Regions from separate parts of the Homo sapiens genome. Here regions 1 and 3 are each linked to region 2. The links come from fine-mapping of genetic effects on gene expression. A gene starts in region 2. Each other region holds a variant in brackets. All regions are shown on one strand. Distances are between the middles of the regions.

Region 1 (6,262 bases), 120 kb after region 2:
GTTAGGGAACTTGCTGGAGGCTGACACTCTGGAAGATCTCTGCTGAGAGAGAGGCCTTTGAGTGTGGGCCTACTTTGACCGGGGCAGGATGTGAACACAGGCCCCTACCTCCATGCTCTCCAGGACTCGCTCAGCCTCCCAAGCACAGACCCTCTGAGTACCTCCGCTATAGAGACGGGGAGGGGTGTGACTGTCCCTGACTCTGCCCAGAGTCCCAGGAGCCTTTGTGCCGTCTAAGCCCTGTGGGTGATTTGGGTTTGGTAAGTGCCGGGGCTCAAAAAACAACACCCCAACGTGGAAGCCTCAGAAACAAAAGTTTCTCTGTCCTGCTCCCACCCTCCTGTCTCCAGCTCCTCCTCCTCTGAGAGGCTTCCCCAAACCCTGCCATAAAACCCAGAAATATGACTCCAGTTCTCCACTCCCTCCCCTTTCTGTGTAGAAACCAGCCTAAAGAAACCCTCTGGCCTGCTTTATTTGACTGTAGGTCATAAGAGCTCCATTCCAGAAAGAGTCCTGCCCCACACCTAGAAGGAAGGAGAGCTGCTCAGAGAGGCCCCAGGGAATCTGACTCAACAGGCCCTACCAGGCTCTCCTCTTGGTCTGTGAGCATCCAGCCTTACTTTTGTATCCAATCATATTTCCATACTTCGCTGAACTGTGTTTATGGATAGTTTCCACCAGATCTTTGGATCTTCATCTTGAAGGCTGCCGTGCCACATAAGCTATGATCAAATACATCTGTTATGCTCTTCTCCTATTCATCTGCCTTCTGCCCGTTGATTTTCAGCAAACTCCCAGAGGATGAAGGGGAGTTTTCTGTTTGGCCCCACAGGGGAGGAGCGAGCGAGATTGACGTGGAAGCTGGGCCTCTGAAGGACACAGAGTGCTCTAAGAAAGGGACGATGGGGCAGATCCATGTTCACAAACACGCCCATGTGAATTCACTCTCAGATGTCTCCTCGTGTCAGCACGCTGGGTGCCAGCACGCTCTGATATTGACACAAAGGGCCACGGAGTCACCACTCACTCCACACACACTCACCCCGTGCCCACTTACCCAGGGAGGGCCAGGAATGAGGATGCCACTGTGGCTCAGTGATGGCGCCGAGACACAGGTGAACACTGTAAAATGTGGATGCCTGGAGGCAGCCCACACCCTGGGCCTTGGCTGGGGGAAAGGTTCCAGAAACGTCATCACAACGATGCATTTCATCAGAACTGAGCACATGAATGGGGAGGGGCAGGACTTCCTGAATGTCCCAACCCCACTGTCCCACCCTCTGTGTCAATATGAGGCTGCCTTATAAAGCACCAAGAGGCTGCCAGTGGGACATTTTCTCGGCCCTGCCAGCCCCCAGGAGGAAGGTGGGTCTGAATCTAGCACCATGACGGAACTAGAGACAGCCATGGGCATGATCATAGACGTCTTTTCCCGATATTCGGGCAGCGAGGGCAGCACGCAGACCCTGACCAAGGGGGAGCTCAAGGTGCTGATGGAGAAGGAGCTACCAGGCTTCCTGCAGGTGAGCCAGGCCGGCAGTGCTGGACTCAGCGGGGGCTGGGGAAGAAGGGGAAGGCGTGGCAGGCAGAGGGCTGAGAGCTGCGGTGGGGTCGGCGGTCAAGGGGCTCAGAGGCAAGAGGGACAGATCCTGAAATGCCCTGGAAGCCCAGCCAAGGAACGGACCCACCCTGGCATAAAGGCAGGGGAGGCGGGAGCATCTGAGCAGGGAGAGGGTGTGGTCAGCTTGATCCTTGAAACATGGGGTTGACCCCAGTGTATTTGTGACAGGCCTGGTGGGAGAGTGGGACTCAAACCTGTGCAGTGGGGGCAGGGGCGGAATGCAATCCAGGGCTGCCATTTGCAAGTTTGCCAAGCTTGCCAAGCCCTTGAGCCCTCGGGGCTGTCCTCCAAGGCTGCCGGCCATAAACGCCCCAGCTCTGCCTCCCACTTGCCCGCTTTCCCTGCTCCCATTCCCAGGCCCCTTGTTGCCTGGTATTAGTGGGTCTGGCAGGAAGGACGGGAGGAGGCTCCATCCTGGCACCTGTCTGCGCAGAGCTGTGGACCTCCCTTGGGCTCCCTGCCAGGGAGGAGCCACCGGCCTGAGCCTCACAGAAGGCCCCTCAGGGCGGCCAGGACCAGCTTCCTTCCGCCCGGGGCAGCCTCCGGCTGGGCTGAACAGAAGCCGTACCCTCTCCATTTCCCCTTCCCTTTGACCCCTGTCCTCTCCTTCTTTCTCACTCCCCCACTTTCTTCCTTCCTTCCCCTCCCCTTCGGGCCCCACCAGACTCTGCCTACCTGCTAAGGGGCTAACCCACATAGATGCTGATAATCAAAAATGAAAGCCTGAAATTTTCAGCCCTAGAATCACTTCAAAGACATGAAACACTTCAGAATATTGCTTCTATTTTCTTTTCTTTTCTTTTTTTTTTTTTTTGAGACAAGATGTCACTCTGTCACCCAGGCTGGAGTGCAGTGGCAGGATCACGGCTCACTGCAGCCTCGACCTCCCTGGGCTCAGGTGATCCTCCCACCTCAGCCTACCGAGTAGCTGGGACTACAGGTGCATGTCACCATACCCGGTTAATTTTTGTATTTTTTTTAGAGACAAGGTCTCACCATGTTGCCCAGGCTGGTCTCAAACTCCTGTGCTCAGGCAATGCGTCAGCCTCGACATCTCAAAGTGCTGTGATTACAGGCGTGAGCCCCGACACCTGGCCTAGTTCTATTTTCTAAATGTGAATTCTGTAAAGATATCTTTTAAAAATAAAGTTCTGTTTTTGGTAGAAAATGTAAAAATAGATAAATATGGAGGGAAGAAATCCCCCCTGGAATACAGACGCTTCCTCTCCCTTCCAGCCTTTTCCCCATATGAACATTGCTGTGAGTGAGATTTACATGCAATGTAATTTCTTTTTGAGCTTAACATTACAACATAAATTCTCAAACTCTGATGTTCATTAAACACCCCAGCCCCATCCTGGGAACTTGGGCTTGGGGCTCGGGGTGTTCTGATAATGATCAAAGTATGAGAATTGAACCCATGAGGACTTTGATCCAAGATACTGGGGTGTGGGGAGGGGCAGGCACAGGTGTCCTGGGAACACACTTTGAGAAGCAATGGCAAAGCTGGGGGTCCAGCTAATGTGTTACATTAGAATCACCTCGGGGAGGCCCTGGGTGCCCTTCTCAGCCCTCCCTCCGGAGGCTGCTGAAGCCCAGCAAAGCCGGAGTCAGAGAACAATGTCCGCCTGAGGGCAGGGCTGGGCTGGGCTGGCCTTCTGGCCCTATCTGCTCCGTGCCCAACCCAGCGCCCCGCACAGTCGGAGCTTTGTAAATACGAGGTGACTGTCTGCCTACAAACTTTGTAAACATCACTTGAAATGGCCGCAGGGTATTG[T/C]GACATGGCCATACCACTATTTGTTTGCTATTGAATTTGTACTTCCCTGCCTTACTTTTGCTATTGCAAACCATGCTGTCACTAAGGTCTTCATGCACACAGTTGTGTCTTGGTCAGATGATATGTTTCTACCAATTTTAATTGTGTTTCTTTCCACCTGGACACACAGCTCTCTGGCCCAGGGCTGGGTCATCAGCACACCCTGCTGCTGCTGTTCAGATCTGCATCCTGGTCCCGCTTGGTCCCACAGTGAGAACGCTTTGCTATCACATGGGCAGGCTCTGAGAGCCCTGCCGGCCTGGCCTTCTCAAAGAAGACCTGAGAGCTTGGGACCCAAGCAGAGAGGAAGAACAGGGCTCAGGGTGCTTGCTCCATGCTCGCTCCACACCTGGGGCTCAACCCTGGCTTTCCCCGGCTCCCTGTGTGACTTCAGGGCAGGTCCCTTGGGCCCTCTGGGCCTTATCATCTTCATCTGTAACAGGGCGATGCCTCTGCCGTGTCTGGTGGTGTTGAGGAGTTCCTGTTTGTGTAAGCAGCTAGTTCAGTGCCAGCACGAGATGGGAGGCCCATGAAGTTAGCAGTGCACAAAAAATAGAGCAAAGACTGGATGCATTTCCTGAGAACAACCATCACTGTAAAGCACTTTACAAATCCAAAGACAACCCCCGGCAAAAACTCAAAATGAAACTCCCTCTCGCAGAGCACAATTCCAATTCGCTCTAAAAACATTACAAGTTAGTTCATGTCATGCCAGATAGCTGAAGGCAGCTCACAAGTTCTTAAGGCCAGGAATGCCATGTGTCTGCTATGCACAGCTGGCCCTGGCCCTGACAGCAAAGGTGACGCAGATGTGGGTGCCCTGCTCCTGCCCAGCAGCAGTGCTTGGTGGAGGCTGAGGCCCTGCACAGGCACCCTCACTGCTGACCTTGAGCCTCTCTCTCCTCTAGAGTGGAAAAGACAAGGATGCCGTGGATAAATTGCTCAAGGACCTGGACGCCAATGGAGATGCCCAGGTGGACTTCAGTGAGTTCATAGTGTTCGTGGCTGCAATCACGTCTGCCTGTCACAAGTACTTTGAGAAGGCAGGACTCAAATGATGCCCTGGAGATGTCACAGATTCCTGGCAGAGCCATGGTCCCAGGCTTCCCAAAAGTGTTTGTTGGCAATTATTCCCCTAGGCTGAGCCTGCTCATGTACCTCTGATTAATAAATGCTTATGAAATGATCCTGGTCTCAGAGAAACTGGTTATTTCCTTAAAACCTCAGTGTCCTCTCCCCACAAAACAGAATTCACTAATTAAACTTGTCATTTCATTACTCATTGCCTGCCTGCAGTGGTGAGACAGATGAAGAAGACAAGGCAGTCGATAAAAATCCATTTGTTGGCCATCTTCTGAGTGCCCACTGAGACACAGTCCCACCTTTGGCCGTGTGAATGCCACCATGTCCTGGACCCAAGGGAGGCTCGGGTACACACATCCATGTATTTATTCATCTACTTCGTAATTCATTTAGTCGGTCACGTAGCCACTCATTGAACCTGGGCCCCTCCATCTCTCCAAACAGCATGTTTTCTTCAAGTAACATACTTCTAATATTTATTTATTTTTGAGACGGAGTCTCGCTCTTGTCACCCAGGCTGGAATGCAATGGCGCCATCTCAGCTCACTGCAACCTCCGCCTCTTGGGTTCAAGTGATTCTCCTGCCTCAGCCTCCCGAGTACCTGGGACTGCAGGCACCCGCAAAACCACACCTGGCTACTTTTTGTATTTTTAGTAGAGACGGGGTGTCACCATGTTGGCCAGGCTGGTCTCGAACTCCTGATTTCAGGTGATCTGCCCACCTCAACCTCCCAAAGTGCTGGGATTACAGGTGTGAGCCACTGCGCCTCGCAAAGTAACATATCTTTTTTTCTTTTTTTTTTTTTTTGAGACGGAGTCTCACTGTGTTGCCCAGGCTGGAGTGCAATGGTGCGATCTTGGCTCACTGCCAGCTCCGCCTCCCAGGTTCACGCCATTCTCCTGCCTCAACCTCCTGAGTAGCTGGGACTACAGGTGCCCACCACCACGCCCGGCTAATTTTTTGTATTTTTAGTAGAGACAGGGTTTCACCGTGTTAGCCAGGATGGTCTCGATCTCCTGAGCTCGTGATCCACCCACCTCGGCCTCCCAAAGTGCTGGGATTACAGGCTTCAGCCACCACGCCCAGACAGTAACATACTTTTAATGATGCAATGCTATTTTTGCCACAAAGACTATGAAACACCATAACAGAGAAACAATGAATTCCAAGAGAGCATTAGAATCATCAGTGAACAACTGCTCACATCACCTGTATTTAGTTTTACGACACTAATGTTGGGAGCACCCAAAAGGACTCAAGCGAGGTCTTGGATGATAGGTAGGTAACTGGATCTGGTTTTAGGACCCCTATCATTTTTTGGATACCCAGTATTTAAAGCCTCTTGCTATGTTTGAAGACATTTTCACTAGAGAAGATCTATCACCAAAAGATCCTGAACTTGGAGGTGGACACAACAATACGAGGCTTGGGTGGATCCCTCTTTGGGGAAGGGACTGCAGATTGCAAATATTTTTGCTAGAGAGAGAGTCGTGTTAGGTTAGATGGGAGCAGATACACACATTTAAATAAAGTAAAAACTAATAATGAGGGAGAAGTAAAGTTAATAATGGGGGAAACAAAAGGGGTGGACTGCCAGAATGGAAATCTTTGTTTCTTTTTTCCTTTGAGAGACGGCCTTGCCCTGTCACCCAGTCTGGAATGCAGTGGTGCTATCGTGGCTCACTGCAATCTTTTTTTTTTTTTTGAGACGGAGTCTTGCTCTGTCGGCCAGGCTGGAGTG
Region 2 (5,000 bases):
TGGCTTAGAATAAACGTTCTGAGATATTTTAGAGTGTGGCTTTTCTCGTCAACCAAATTCTACAAAGAGCTTGGGGGGTGGGTAATGTTGTGGAGCCCATCTTTGGCAGATACAGTCTGCCAAAGATTGTGACACTGCCTTATCGATAAACTCAGTGGCTTAACACAATTAAAGCTTATTTCTCCCTCTTGTCACAGCTCTTTGGGTTCCTCATGGTTCCATGTGGTTCTTCAGAGCCTCCATTGGTGGCTCTAACCTCCCTGAGGTCCTCGGAGTGCCCTCCACTGGAGCAGTGGGTGAGTAAGAGAGCAGGGCTCACCCACAGGAGGTTGTTAGGGGCCAGCCTGGAAGAGGAGCACAGTGCCCGCCCCCACCCATCCCATTGACTAGCACTTAGCCACGTGGCCGCACCTGGTTGCAGAGGCTGGAGAGTGGAGCCCAGCTGTGAGCCTGGCCGGTCATGGGGACATGTGTTAGTGAGTACTGTCCACGTCAGGCTCAGACCATCTGACCTGAGGCTATGGGGATGCAGGGGTCCCCAGGGGGTGGACAGGACAGAAGGAGGAGGGAGACCTGCTTGGAGAACCTGTTCTCAGTTTCCATTTGTTACATAATGGACAAGAGGACCAGCACTTTTGCTCAGAGCTGCAGCTCTGGTTCCGCTAGGAAATGCCAGGCAGGGGCACAGCCAAGTGGTTCTCAGACAGTAAACCCCAAGCCACAGACCCTTGCTTTCTTGGGCAGGGAGTAGTGGACAGGGCTGACTCCAGGCAACAGTCCCAAACAGGCTGCACCAATGTGACCGCACCTCCCCTGAGTGCAGGCAAGGGGTGCTGTGCTCACGCTCTCAGCCTGGGTGCATCCTTACTTTGTTCACAGCTCCTCTATCGGACCCATTTCACTGAGGCTCAGCGAGGTTACCTATGTCGCCCCAGGTCACCATCCAGTAACCCAGAAAGCTTCTCTTGGCTCCTCCACTAACTGCGTGATCTTGGACAAGTCAGTTACTGTCTCTGAAAGCCAGTTCTCCTCCTTAAAATGGAGACAGTTGAGCCAGGCATGCTGGTTTATGCCTGTAATCCCAGCACTTTGAGAGGCGGAGGCAGGAGGATCGCTTGAGCTCAGGAGTTTGGGACCAGCCTGGGCAACATAGTGAGGCCCCCATCTCTATAAATTTTTTTTTTAATTAGCTGGGTGTGGCAGTGTGCCCCTGTGGTCCCAGCTACTCAGGAGGCTGAGGTGGGAGGATCACTTGGGCCCGGGAGGTCAAGGCTGCAGTGAGCCCTGATCGCGCCACTGCACTCCGGCCTGGGAGACAGAGTGAGATCCTGTCCAAAAAAAAAAAAAGGAGACAGTCCCATAACAAGCCCCCCATGGCGCCGCCCAGATGGGGTTTCGACGCCAGGGAGAGGAGGGAAAGGGTTATCAGGGAAGGTTCCTGGTGGCAGAGCTCACAGGGTCCGTGCTGAGCCGAATTTTGCACGGTAGCCTCAGAGTCCCGGAGCCGAGTCCAGAGGGCGGGATGCAGGTATTGCGAAGAGGCACACGCTCCGAGAGGAACCACCAGAGCGTGGGCTTTGGGCGAGGAGGGGTCTCCTCTGGTTGGGGGAGATCTGGCAGGCTTGGGGGAGATGGGGCTGAAAGGATGGACAGGGAGGGAAGGCCAGAAAGCTGGAGACGGGGATGGAGAGCTAAACCGCAAAGAGCAGGCGCCCTGCCCCGCTGAGGGCCCCGCGCCTCCAGCTCCTCCTTCCCGAGCTTCCCGGGGTCGGCGTCCAGCCGGCAACCAATGGGCCCCGCCCCCGCCCGCAGCCAATGGGCCGCGTCCCCGCCCGCGCGGCCGCCCCGCCCCTCGCGGACCCGGAAGTGGGCCTGGCACCTTCCCGGCCTGCCGCAGGGATGGGGCAGCTGTGCTGGCTGCCGCTGCTGGCACCGCTCCTGTTGCTGCGACCGCCAGGGGTCCAGTCCGCCGGCCCCATCCGGGCCTTCGTGGTGCCCCACAGCCACATGGACGTGGGCTGGGTCTACACTGTGCAGGTAGGTGCCGACCACGCCCCGCGCGCCCCTGAGGCTGCAGCTTCCCTCTCCCCGCGGGATCTGAGTGTGGGTTTGCGTCCCGGGGCCCGATGCCGGCGCAGAAGGAGGCTCAGTGGGTTCAGGACCCCACGCTGCCATTGACTGGTTGCGTCGCTAACTTCGGGCCAGTCACTTCCTGCCTCTGAACCCCCATTTCCCCTTCTGGAGGGTGGTGCAGATTGGAGGGACCCCTGCATTCCCGGCTGGGGAGGGGCTTGGGGGTTGACAGTGGTAACCCATTTTCCAGGGAAGCCTGGAGCAGGAGAGGGTGGGGCTGGCTTCAGAGCAGGTGGATGTCAGGTGCCCGCTGGGAAGGGGCCGGGCTGGTCCCCTGCGGGGCTGAATATTGGAGGCCAGCTCAGCGTCCTCCGCCCCCCAGGACAGGGGTGAAGGTGGACCTGTGGTCACCTCCTGGTTCTGCTCAGGACCTTGGGCGAGGGGCTTTGGTCCCTAAGCCTCAGTTTCCCCATCTGTAAAGGGTAGGGGAAGCATGCCCACTACAGCCAGTTTCCAGAGGAGAAAACCGAGGCCCAGAGAGGGTTGCTGCCTTGCCCAAGGTCGCTCGGGAATAACCCTCATGCCTCCTGACTCCCTGCTCGGTGCTCCTTCCATTCATGTAAGCACTCTGTGGGCACCCTGTGTGCAGGGCCCTCGGGACTCGGATGGGAACACACTACAGCTGTGGTCCTTGGAGCTCCCAGCCTTGGGGAGGCAGACGCCTAGACGCCAGGGACAGCCTGGGGAGCTCTTCCTCTCAGCACCAGCTTTCCTCATTTCAGCCCCAGCAGGCCCCTTTGGGGTCACTGGACCACACCCCGACTGAGGCCTAAGACTTTCCTGTGCTGCCCCTCAATGGCACACTCAGGGCCCAGCCCCCCAAATTGCACACTCAAGGCCCAGCTTGCTCACCCCTCTGAGAAACTGTCCCTGACCCCTGGGCTGGGAGGGCACCTGTCTCTGCCCATGTAGGGTGTCTGTTTCCCCGTCCCTCTCCCCCAGGAGAGCACGATCCCATCCAGTGGGGAGAGCCTGGTATGGAGCGAGTGCCTAATAGCTGTGTGGGGGGTGAGCAGCAGGGAAGGAAGGGCAGAGCCCCCAACCCCATGCAGACACACCTGGCGAATGGCAGGGGCCCCAGGGACACTTGGTCTTGTTGGACCGGGGCTGGCATGATGCTGTCCCCTCCCCAGGAAAGCATGCGGGCGTACGCCGCCAATGTCTACACCTCAGTGGTGGAAGAGCTGGCCCGCGGCCAGCAGCGCCGGTTCATCGCTGTGGAGCAGGAGTTTTTCCGGCTGTGGTGGGATGGCGTCGCCTCGGACCAGCAGAAATACCAGGTAATGAGGTCACCAGGTGACACAGTTGGCCCAGTATCCTGGCAAAGACCCAGGTGGAAAACTCAATGGGGCAGTTCTAGCCAGGGCCAGGGCCAGGCTGGCATAAACCACAGGGCCAAAACCCCACCGGGCTATTCACAGCCTTGTTTAGATCAAGGTTCACGGTGAGTTCCATGCCTGGGAGAGATTGCTTTCAATTTAATCCTGAATTTCTGTCTATTCTTGAAAAAACTGCCAGCTCTGGCAACCCAGCTGTGCACTTCCGTGCCAGCTGGCACTAAGTCAGCAGTGCCCCCTGACACCAGGCATCCCAGGTGTCCCCAAGCCCTCACCCTCTTCTCTCATTTGTGTTATCTGCCTGGCCCCCGGGCCCAGGGTCTGGTGACCCTTGATGAGGGTGCGATAGTCCCTGTGGTTTGAGGGTAGGCAGCAGGTTGCTTCATACAGCATGGAGAGTCAGAGTCCCCGCTGCACAGTGAGGCAGCCTGGGTCCCATCCTGCTCCCGCACCAGGGGACACGACTAGCCCCTGCGAGCCACAGATTCCACTTCTATTAAACGGGGGTGACCGCCCCATTGCAGAAAAGTCATGCCAAGAATGAAGCCCTGGCGTGAGCACCCAGGACGATACTCGGGGGTTCTTAGTTTCCTCCCAGGTATCCACCTGCCTTCAGAATAGTTGCTGAACATAAAGTTCAGGGACGCCAAGTGACTTGCTCAAGGGAGTGAAGCGGAGAAGGGAGAGCAGGGCGTCCACCAGGCCCCGCCAGAGTCACGGGAAGGAGCCGGACATCCAATGGCCACTTGATGCTGCCAGATAGTGGGGTTCTTACCTCAAGTTAAAGAGACATTCCAGGTTCAGAGAGGGCACGCCACTGGCCTGCAGTCACACAGCTTGTAAGCGGCAGGTGGGATTCTGAGCCAGGCATGCCTGACTCGAGGCAGGCCTTTCCAGGATATCCTGTGAGCGTCCCATGCTTCTTCAGGTGGACCCCACCAAACCCAGTGGTCTGTCTCCTAGCCCTCAAAGAGAAGCATGGCCTGCATGGCCCAGTGAAGACCTGGACAGGAAACTTGTGGCAGAGCTCCCTGGAGGCAGGAATTGTTGCCTGCTTCATTCACTGCTGAACCCCCAGTGCCTGAACAGTGCTGGTTGTGTAGTAGGTGCTCACTTAACATTTGTTGAGTGAATGATCTACATATAGTGCACCTTAAGAAACAAACCAAAGGCACAGCCTATAAACAGCTGTGTGTACACATACTGAGGTGTGTAGTGTCTAGGGCAACAAAGGTGTTATGTGTGTAGAGACGGGGATGTTAAGCAAATAGGTTAAAAATGGTAGTGATGAGTGAACCTTGGGAAAGGATATGGGAGCTCTTTGTTCTATTCCTGAAACTTTTCTAAAGTTTAGAATTAGTTAATAAAATAAGATTTAAGAAAATCTTATATATACAAATATATATCTCAAATACCACCTGAGGGCTGCATGATTTCTAGGTGGTGGGAACACAGTGTGGACCAGGACAGACAGTGCCCTGCTTTTATAGAGTAAGCAAGGGTGGGGAGTTTTATGCAGGGCGTGTGTGG
Region 3 (7,033 bases), 43 kb after region 2:
CTGGAATCCCAGCACTTAGGGGATCCGAGGCAGGCGGATTGCTTGAGCCCAGGAGTTCAAGACCAGCCTGGGCAGCATAGGAAGATCCTGTGTCTATAAAAATAAAAATAGAAAAGTTCTCTGGTCATGGTGGCGTGTGCCTGAGCCTGCTTTCCCAGGCACCTGCAGCCGCCTTGTGAAATGGGATCCCTCACCATTCCTGCTGTGTGGGACACAGGAGGCCTTCCCTGACTTTGGAGCTGGAACTCCTCACCACCACACCAGGAGATGTAGAAGCACTTTCACAAACCTCTTGGCTTTTGTGATCTTGGGCAGTCATTCCCCTGTGCCATTCTGAAAACCAGCTACCCCATAGCCCCATGATAGCTTCTTAAAAATGGGCCAGGCAAGGTGGCTCACATCTGTAATGCCAGCACTTTGGGAGGCCGAGGTAGCAGGATCACTTCAGGCCAGGAGTTCGAGACCAGCCTGGGCAACATAGCTAGACTCTGTCTCTACAAAAAAAAATTAAAAAATTAGGCGGGTGTGGTGATGCTTGCCTGTGGTCCCAGCTACTCAGGAGGCTGAGGTGAAAGGATCACTTGAGGCCAGGAGTTCAAGGCTGCAGTGAGCTGTAATCATGCTACAGCACTCCAGCCTGGGCAACAGAGCAAGACCCTGTCTCTAAAAAAATTTTTTTTTTCTTTGAGACAGAGTCTCAATCTGTTGCCCAGGCTGGAGTGCAGTGGTGTGATCTTGGCTCACTGCAACCTCCACCACCCAGGTTCAAGCAATTCTCCTACCTCAGCCTCCCGAGTAGCTGGGATTACAGGTGCCCACCACCATGCCCAGCTAATTTTTGTATTTTTAATAGAGACAGGGTTTCACTGTGCTGACCAGGCTGGTCTCAAACTCCTGACAGCAGGCAATCCGCCCTCCTTGGCCTCCCAAAGTGCTGCGATTACAGGTGTGAGCCACCACACCCTGCCAAAATTTTTTTTTTAATACTGATGCCTCAATTCTAATCCCAGACAGATTGATTTAGTCAGCTTTGAGGCATAGCTGCAGAGCTGAGGTTCTACCAGCCAGGGTTTAGGAAGCACCTGTGTTAACCAGGTCCTCTCTCCAGGACCTTGAACTCAGTGCTTTCCTCTGAGCCTCGGTCTTCCCATCTGTAAAACGGGAGCAATGGCAATGAGCCTTTCTGAGTGGGAAGATCAGGGATGGGACAGGAGATCACATACATCATGTGGCAAATGACAGCATTATATCAGTCAGGGTGGCTGGCGTATGCTGCAGTAACAAAGAGCCCCGAATGCCCACGGTCTTAACAGTATATATTCATTTCTCCCCCATGCTGTGCATCCAGTGGGGTTAGCAGGAAGGTTTTTCTTGCTGTGGCCACCACGCCCCCCGCTGATGGAGTTTGTATTGCAGCACGTGCTTCCTCACTCACCATGGCAAGAAAAAGCTTCTGCCGGGAAGTACTGCGTCACTTCAGCTCACTTTGCATTGGCCACAGAGGCCACGCAGCCTCCCCTGACTTCAAAGGGGGCAGGGTAGGAGAGACTGGAGTATTTGAGGACATGCCCCAATATGCCCACAACAGTGGACGAGGATGGAAACATTGCAGCTGGTGTCATGGTGGGCAGCCTTACAGTCGGCCAGACCTGGGTGGGAATCCTCCCTCTGCCGCGCACCAGCTGTATGCCTTGGGCACGTGACTGCCCCTCTCTGAGCCTTGGTTTCCTTGTCGAGTGGGGGCCATGTCAGCTGTCTCACATGGAGTCTATTAGTCTGTTCTCATGCTGCTCATAAAGACATACCCGAGACTGGGTAGTTTATGAAGAAAAAAGGTTTAATGGACTCACAGTTCCACCTGGATAGGGAGGCCTCACAATCATGGCAGAAGGCAAATGAGGAGCAAAGTCACGTCTTACATGGTGGCAGGCAAGAGAGCGTGTGCAGGGGAACTGCCCTTTACAAAATCATCAGGTCTCATGAGACTTATTCACTATCACAAGAACAGCACAGGAAAGACTCACCCCCATGATTCAATTACCTCCCACCAGGTCCCTCCCACAACATGTGGACATTATGGGAGCTACAATTCACGATGAGATTTGGTTGGGGACACAGCCAAACCATATCGAGGAGGTTACAGATAGGAAATGGAGCTGAGTGTGTAAAGCAGCGGGTATAGACCAGGGACATTGGGGTTGGTTGATGAGGGTCTTCACTGCCACCTTCCTTCTGTCCCCAAAGGCCATCGAGGGGAAGCCCAGGCTGACCTCCGCCGTGTCCTGCTGCGGCTCTACCACCTATATGAAGTGGGCGAGGACCCAGTCCTGTCTCAGCCAGT[G/A]ACAGTGAATCTGGAGGTGAACTTCCCCACCCCCATCCAGACCATAAGCCAGGGAAGCAAACCCTAGATGAAGCCCCAAGAAACTGCCTTGGCAAAGAGATCCACGAGGGCTTCCTCCCAAATGGACGCTGGTATGGGCCCCACCCCGCCCTTCTTCATGGTCTTCTGGGTTTGTCAGGTATTACAACTGGCCTGGTTTTTTAGGGTTTTTTGTGTATATGTGAGACAGGATCTCACTCTGTTGCCCAGTCTGGGGTGCAGTGGCACAATCTCAGCTCACTGCAACCTCTGCCTCCCTGGCTCAAGTGATCCTCCCACCTCAACCTCCCAAGTAACTGGGATCACAGGGGCGCGCCACCACGATGGCTAAGTTTTTTTTTTTTTTTTTGAGACCGAGTTTCGCTCTCGTCCCCCAGGCTGGAGTGCAATGGTGCGCTCTCAGCTGGCTGCAACCTCCATCTCCCAGGTTCAAGTGATTCTCCTGCCTCAGCCTCCCGAGTAGCTGGGATTACAGGCATGTGCCACCACGCCCGGCTAATTTTTTTGTACTTTTAGTAGAGACAGGGTTTCTCCATGTTGGTCAGGCTGGTCACGAACCCCTGACTTCAGGTGATCCACCTGCCTCGGCCTCGCAAAGTGCTGGGATTACAGGCGTGAGCCACCAAGCCTGGCCTAGTTTTTTTATTTTTAGTAGAGACACGGTCTTGCTGTGTTGCTCAGGCTGGTCTCGAACGTCTGGCCTCAAGCAATCTGCCTGTCTTAGCCTCCTGAAGTGCTGGGATTACAGGCGTGAGTGGCCTGTATTTTCTTTCTTATTTATTCTGTGGTAAAACTTTTAAAACACAGACAACATCTGTGTAATCCAAAAACAAAACAGATTCCCCATAGAGTTGCTTTGAAAGGTGACTTAGAGTCAGACAATCCAGGGTCCACACCCAGGCCCCTCTACGGGGGCATCTCCGGCACCCCATGCCTCTGGGCCTCAGTTTCCCCCCATGTAAAATGGGGAGAGGTGAGAGTTCTTTGCCCAGAAGGTTGCTGAGAGGCCCTGGCACTAAGGGGCCTCGTGCAGTGTCAGGGCCCCCAGGCCTCGTCCCCTTCCAGGTTCCCCTCTTGGCTGATGTTGCCCTCTCAGCTCTACTATCAGGCGAGGCTTCCGCCACCTGGCCTGCCCACGCTCCCTCCCCAGAAGGCATGACCTGAGCCGCCTCATTTCTTTCCCAGTTTGCATTCTTTCTATTTCATTTCCTGCTCATGGAGAATTTCTGTGAATCTCTGTGTTTCTGCCTTGGGCCTCCTTCGACATCTGAGTCTTCAGGGGAATCCAGAGAAGCCCCAGTACCTTTTCGCCATGATGTCTTACTGGGCCACCCACCTCCTCTTTCATGATCCTCGCCACGGAGGATCCTTTCCTCACGGTCCCTGGCCTGCCTGAGAGCAGGTCTAGGCCATGGCGGGTACCAGTGCCCAGCACAGGGCCAGCCTGCCCTGGGAAGCAAGGAGGCCAGCGTGGGACCTGGAAGTTGGTCATCTGATGCTCCCCCGTTTCACAGATGGAAGCACCAAGGCCCTGAGACAAGGAGACGGTTGGGATGGACACCATGACTCCCTGCCCAACGTGGACGGTGGTGGGGTGGAAAGACCATTGAGTTAGGAACGCAGTGAGTTTGGCTGCAAGTCACAAAACACCTAACAGATGTGCTTAGAACAGAGGACAGAGTGTTTTCTCACCGAACAGGCATGTCCGATGGACCCCAAGCGCTGTCACCGTGGGCCCGATCACTGTCATCTTCCCGCCATCGCCGGCAGACTGGCTTTTGTCTTTTGCCGTCTGCTTGTTTGCGGTCACAAGATGGCACAGGCCTCCCTCATGAGCAAATTTCAAGGCAGGGTAGGGCTCAGCAGTAGTGGCCAGAAAGGCCTTGCCCTAGCGTGGCTCTCTCCCTCCGTCAGCACACAGAAGCTTCTCCAAGAGCCACCCCCAGCCCTCCTGCTCCACAGACTTTTCCAGACCCCTAAGGGCCTCCTGCCTCCCCTAGGTGTAAGGGAGGCTGGGACAAGGCCTATTGGGAAAGGGGGATGGGGTAACTGTGGCTGGCTTCCTCCCTGGACTGGGCACGGGGCCACCTGAGCAATGTGGGGAGAGGAGAACTCCGCGGTGGGGTGGGCAGCTCAAAATGCCACACCTCCCGGGCTGCTCCTCCAGCTCGGCCACCTGGTAAAGCATGCACCTCCCGCTTCAGTGTCCTCATCTGTAAAGTACACGGCCAGTCCTGTCCTCGCAGATGTGCTGTGAGAAGCAGATGAGGGAGCTGTGTCAGGCACCAGGGGAGGACCTGGGCTCCTGAGGACACCGAGTTCGTGGTGTGTCTGCCCTGCTGCTGTCTTGGTTCTCTGCTCAGCTCTGGAACTTGGTGCAGCTCACTCTCCCTCTGCTCCTCTCCCTGCAGGCTGTGCTGCAGGCGCTGGGGTCCGTGGTGGCAGTGGAGGAGCGCTCGCTCACAGGGACCTGGGATTTGAGCATGCTGCACCGCTGGAGCTGGAGGACGGGGCCTGGCCGCCACAGAGGTTTGGGGACCCCCGCTTCAGCTCCCTACCCAGGACTCCCAGCCAGGCTCAGCAGCTGGTCAGACCCGGTGCACATCCAACCATCTGCCTGTCCCGGCCTGTGCGACCTTGCGAGGCTGCTTTCCTACTCTGAACCCGCAGCCCTCCCAAATCTACTACAGTCGGTTAAGAAAGGCTTTGGGTTAGTCTCTGCCTGCCAGGGCTCCACACAGGCGTGTGTGTGCACTTGTACGTGTGCACACGCAGACCACACGCCCTGCCTGTGCCCTGGGTGACAGCTAGGGGCCCAGGGGCTTCTGCCCACCTTGGCCCTGCTGACCTCAGCCCATCAGCCGGTCCCTGCCTCATACGACATGTGCCACCGTGAGCTCCTGCACTACAGGCAGCTTCCAGGCTCCACTCCCTGTCCGCACCATGCCCTCTGCCTGGGACGCACAGGTCCCATTCACTCTGGCCAGCACCTGCTCAAGCTCCCCAGGATGCCTCCCCAGAGTCACCAACCAGGCCAAGTGCCTCCTCCACTCTCCTGGCCCCAGGGGTTTCTTCTGTCCTGTGCAGCTCGTTGTCCACTACACACAGCATGGTGGCGGGTGCATGGTGCACGCTCAGTTGGTGGTGGGAGGAAGGAAGGGACGGAGGGAGGGAGGGAGGGAAGATGATGTTGGTTGGAAAGAAGGAAGGAAGATGGATGAGTGATAGATAAGTGGACGGCTCCCTCCCAAGATCGAAGCCCAACCCCAGGGCATGCCTTCAGGGGAGCCTGGTGAGGCAAGGGCAGACTCACCAGATGGTCTCAGAAAGCTCTTGGGCTTTGAGGGCAACACCCATGAGGAATTGAGGCCACTAGGGCCAGGACCAACCTATGAATTGCCCTCAGGGTGGGCAGAAACGCCAAGAGGCCCACAGGAGTCCTGGCAGAAGGGGATGCCATAGGCCGTTGCCACGGTGGGAGCCACAGCAGACTGTAGCCAGGTGCAGTGTGGTGAGAAGGAGGCTGGGAGCCACAGCAGATTGTAGACAGGTGCAGGAGGGTGAGAGGGAGGCTGGGAGCCACAGCAGACTGTAGACAGGTGCAGGGGGTGAGAGGGAGGCTGGGAGGAGGCATCCCAGGCCACACTGGACAGATCACCTCTGTTCCCCTAGGTGACACCACCTCTCCCTCGAGGCCACCAGGAGGCCCCATCATCACCGTCCACCCAAAGGAAATCCGGACGTTCTTTATTCACTTTCAACAGCAGTGAGCCCTGGGCAGATGCCCCGGCCCCAGGGCTTCCCCCAGGAACTCCATGTAACAGAACAGACCCAGGACAGGGAAAAGCAGTGCGGAGGGATGGGACTGGGGAGTCAGCTGCTCATCTGCAGGCTAATGGCAGGAAATGGTCATATTTGGGGTTTTTCCCTAATTTTTTTAAACAAAAATTACATTACAAGATCCAGGTTCTTCCCCCCCACACTCAATCAAGCCAGCCCTCTCCTCTTCTGTCACGTAAAGGATATTTGGCACACTCATGCGTCATTCATTCACAAAACACAAACCCAGGACTTTCTGCCTAAGGCAGAGCACAAGACTCACAGCAGCACCGAAGCGCATCTGCCGTCCGGGCCCTGCCAGGCTTGCCAGGCTGCCAGTGGTAACTGTGGACCTACTGCGTGCCACGTGTTTTCATAGACTCATCCCATGCTGGCAACAGCCCTGCAAGGGGCTTGGCTCTGCCACAGGGCAGGAGAGGAAGTTGTAGCGCCTAGCGAGAGTTCCAGCCCCAGACGCCCACCTGTGCCTCAGGGCACCGCCTGCCGAGCAGAGAAGGCACAGCAGCCGTCAGAGTCCATGAGAGGTGAAACCACACAGCAGGGATGTCCAATATCAGAACTATTAATATCAATAAAAGTATAACCTTCCCAGGTCTATGCCCAAGAGAATTGAAAACATCCATCCACACAATACCTGTGCTCCCGCGTTCATAGCAGCATTACTCAAAAGTCAAACGGTAGCAACAACCCAAATGTCCATCCACAGATGAATTAAGACATGAAGTGTGTTCTGTCCATACAATGGAATATTATTTGGCCATAAAAAGGAAGGAAATTCTGACGCATGCCACAGCCTGAGTGAATCCTACAAAT

The links. PIP is the estimated chance that this variant, and not a neighbour inherited with it, causes the effect.
Region 1: its variant is fine-mapped to the expression of MAN2B2 in whole blood (TOPMed, PIP above 0.99).
Region 3: its variant is fine-mapped to the expression of MAN2B2 in whole blood (TOPMed, PIP above 0.99).

The regions. Positions count from the first base shown.
Region 1 is chr4:6,692,548-6,698,809 of GRCh38, forward strand. It overlaps S100P (S100 calcium binding protein P), which reads left to right and starts at 1,331. Exons shown (of 2, transcript NM_005980.3): 1 at 1,331-1,523; 2 at 4,346-4,623. The coding sequence starts at 1,386. The coding sequence ends at 4,495. RefSeq lists enhancers at 15-552, 862-1,598, 1,599-2,334, 3,537-4,299. The variant T/C (reference allele first, on the strand shown) is at 3,399.
Region 2 is chr4:6,573,312-6,578,311 of GRCh38, forward strand. MAN2B2 (mannosidase alpha class 2B member 2) reads left to right here and starts at 1,878. Exons shown (of 19, transcript NM_015274.3): 1 at 1,878-2,037; 2 at 3,267-3,413. The coding sequence starts at 1,900. LOC105374365 (a long non-coding RNA gene) reads left to right here. Exons shown (of 3, transcript XR_925098.3): 2 at 198-296; 3 at 880-1,027. RefSeq lists enhancers at 74-842, 843-1,610, 1,611-2,379 and a silencer at 1,668-2,127.
Region 3 is chr4:6,615,136-6,622,168 of GRCh38, forward strand. MAN2B2 (mannosidase alpha class 2B member 2) reads left to right here. Exons shown (of 19, transcript NM_015274.3): 17 at 2,245-2,357; 18 at 4,792-4,909; 19 at 6,053-7,033. The coding sequence ends at 6,150. Among named protein-coding and RNA genes, the nearest start is that of MRFAP1, 22 kb to the right of the region's middle. The variant G/A (reference allele first, on the strand shown) is at 2,342.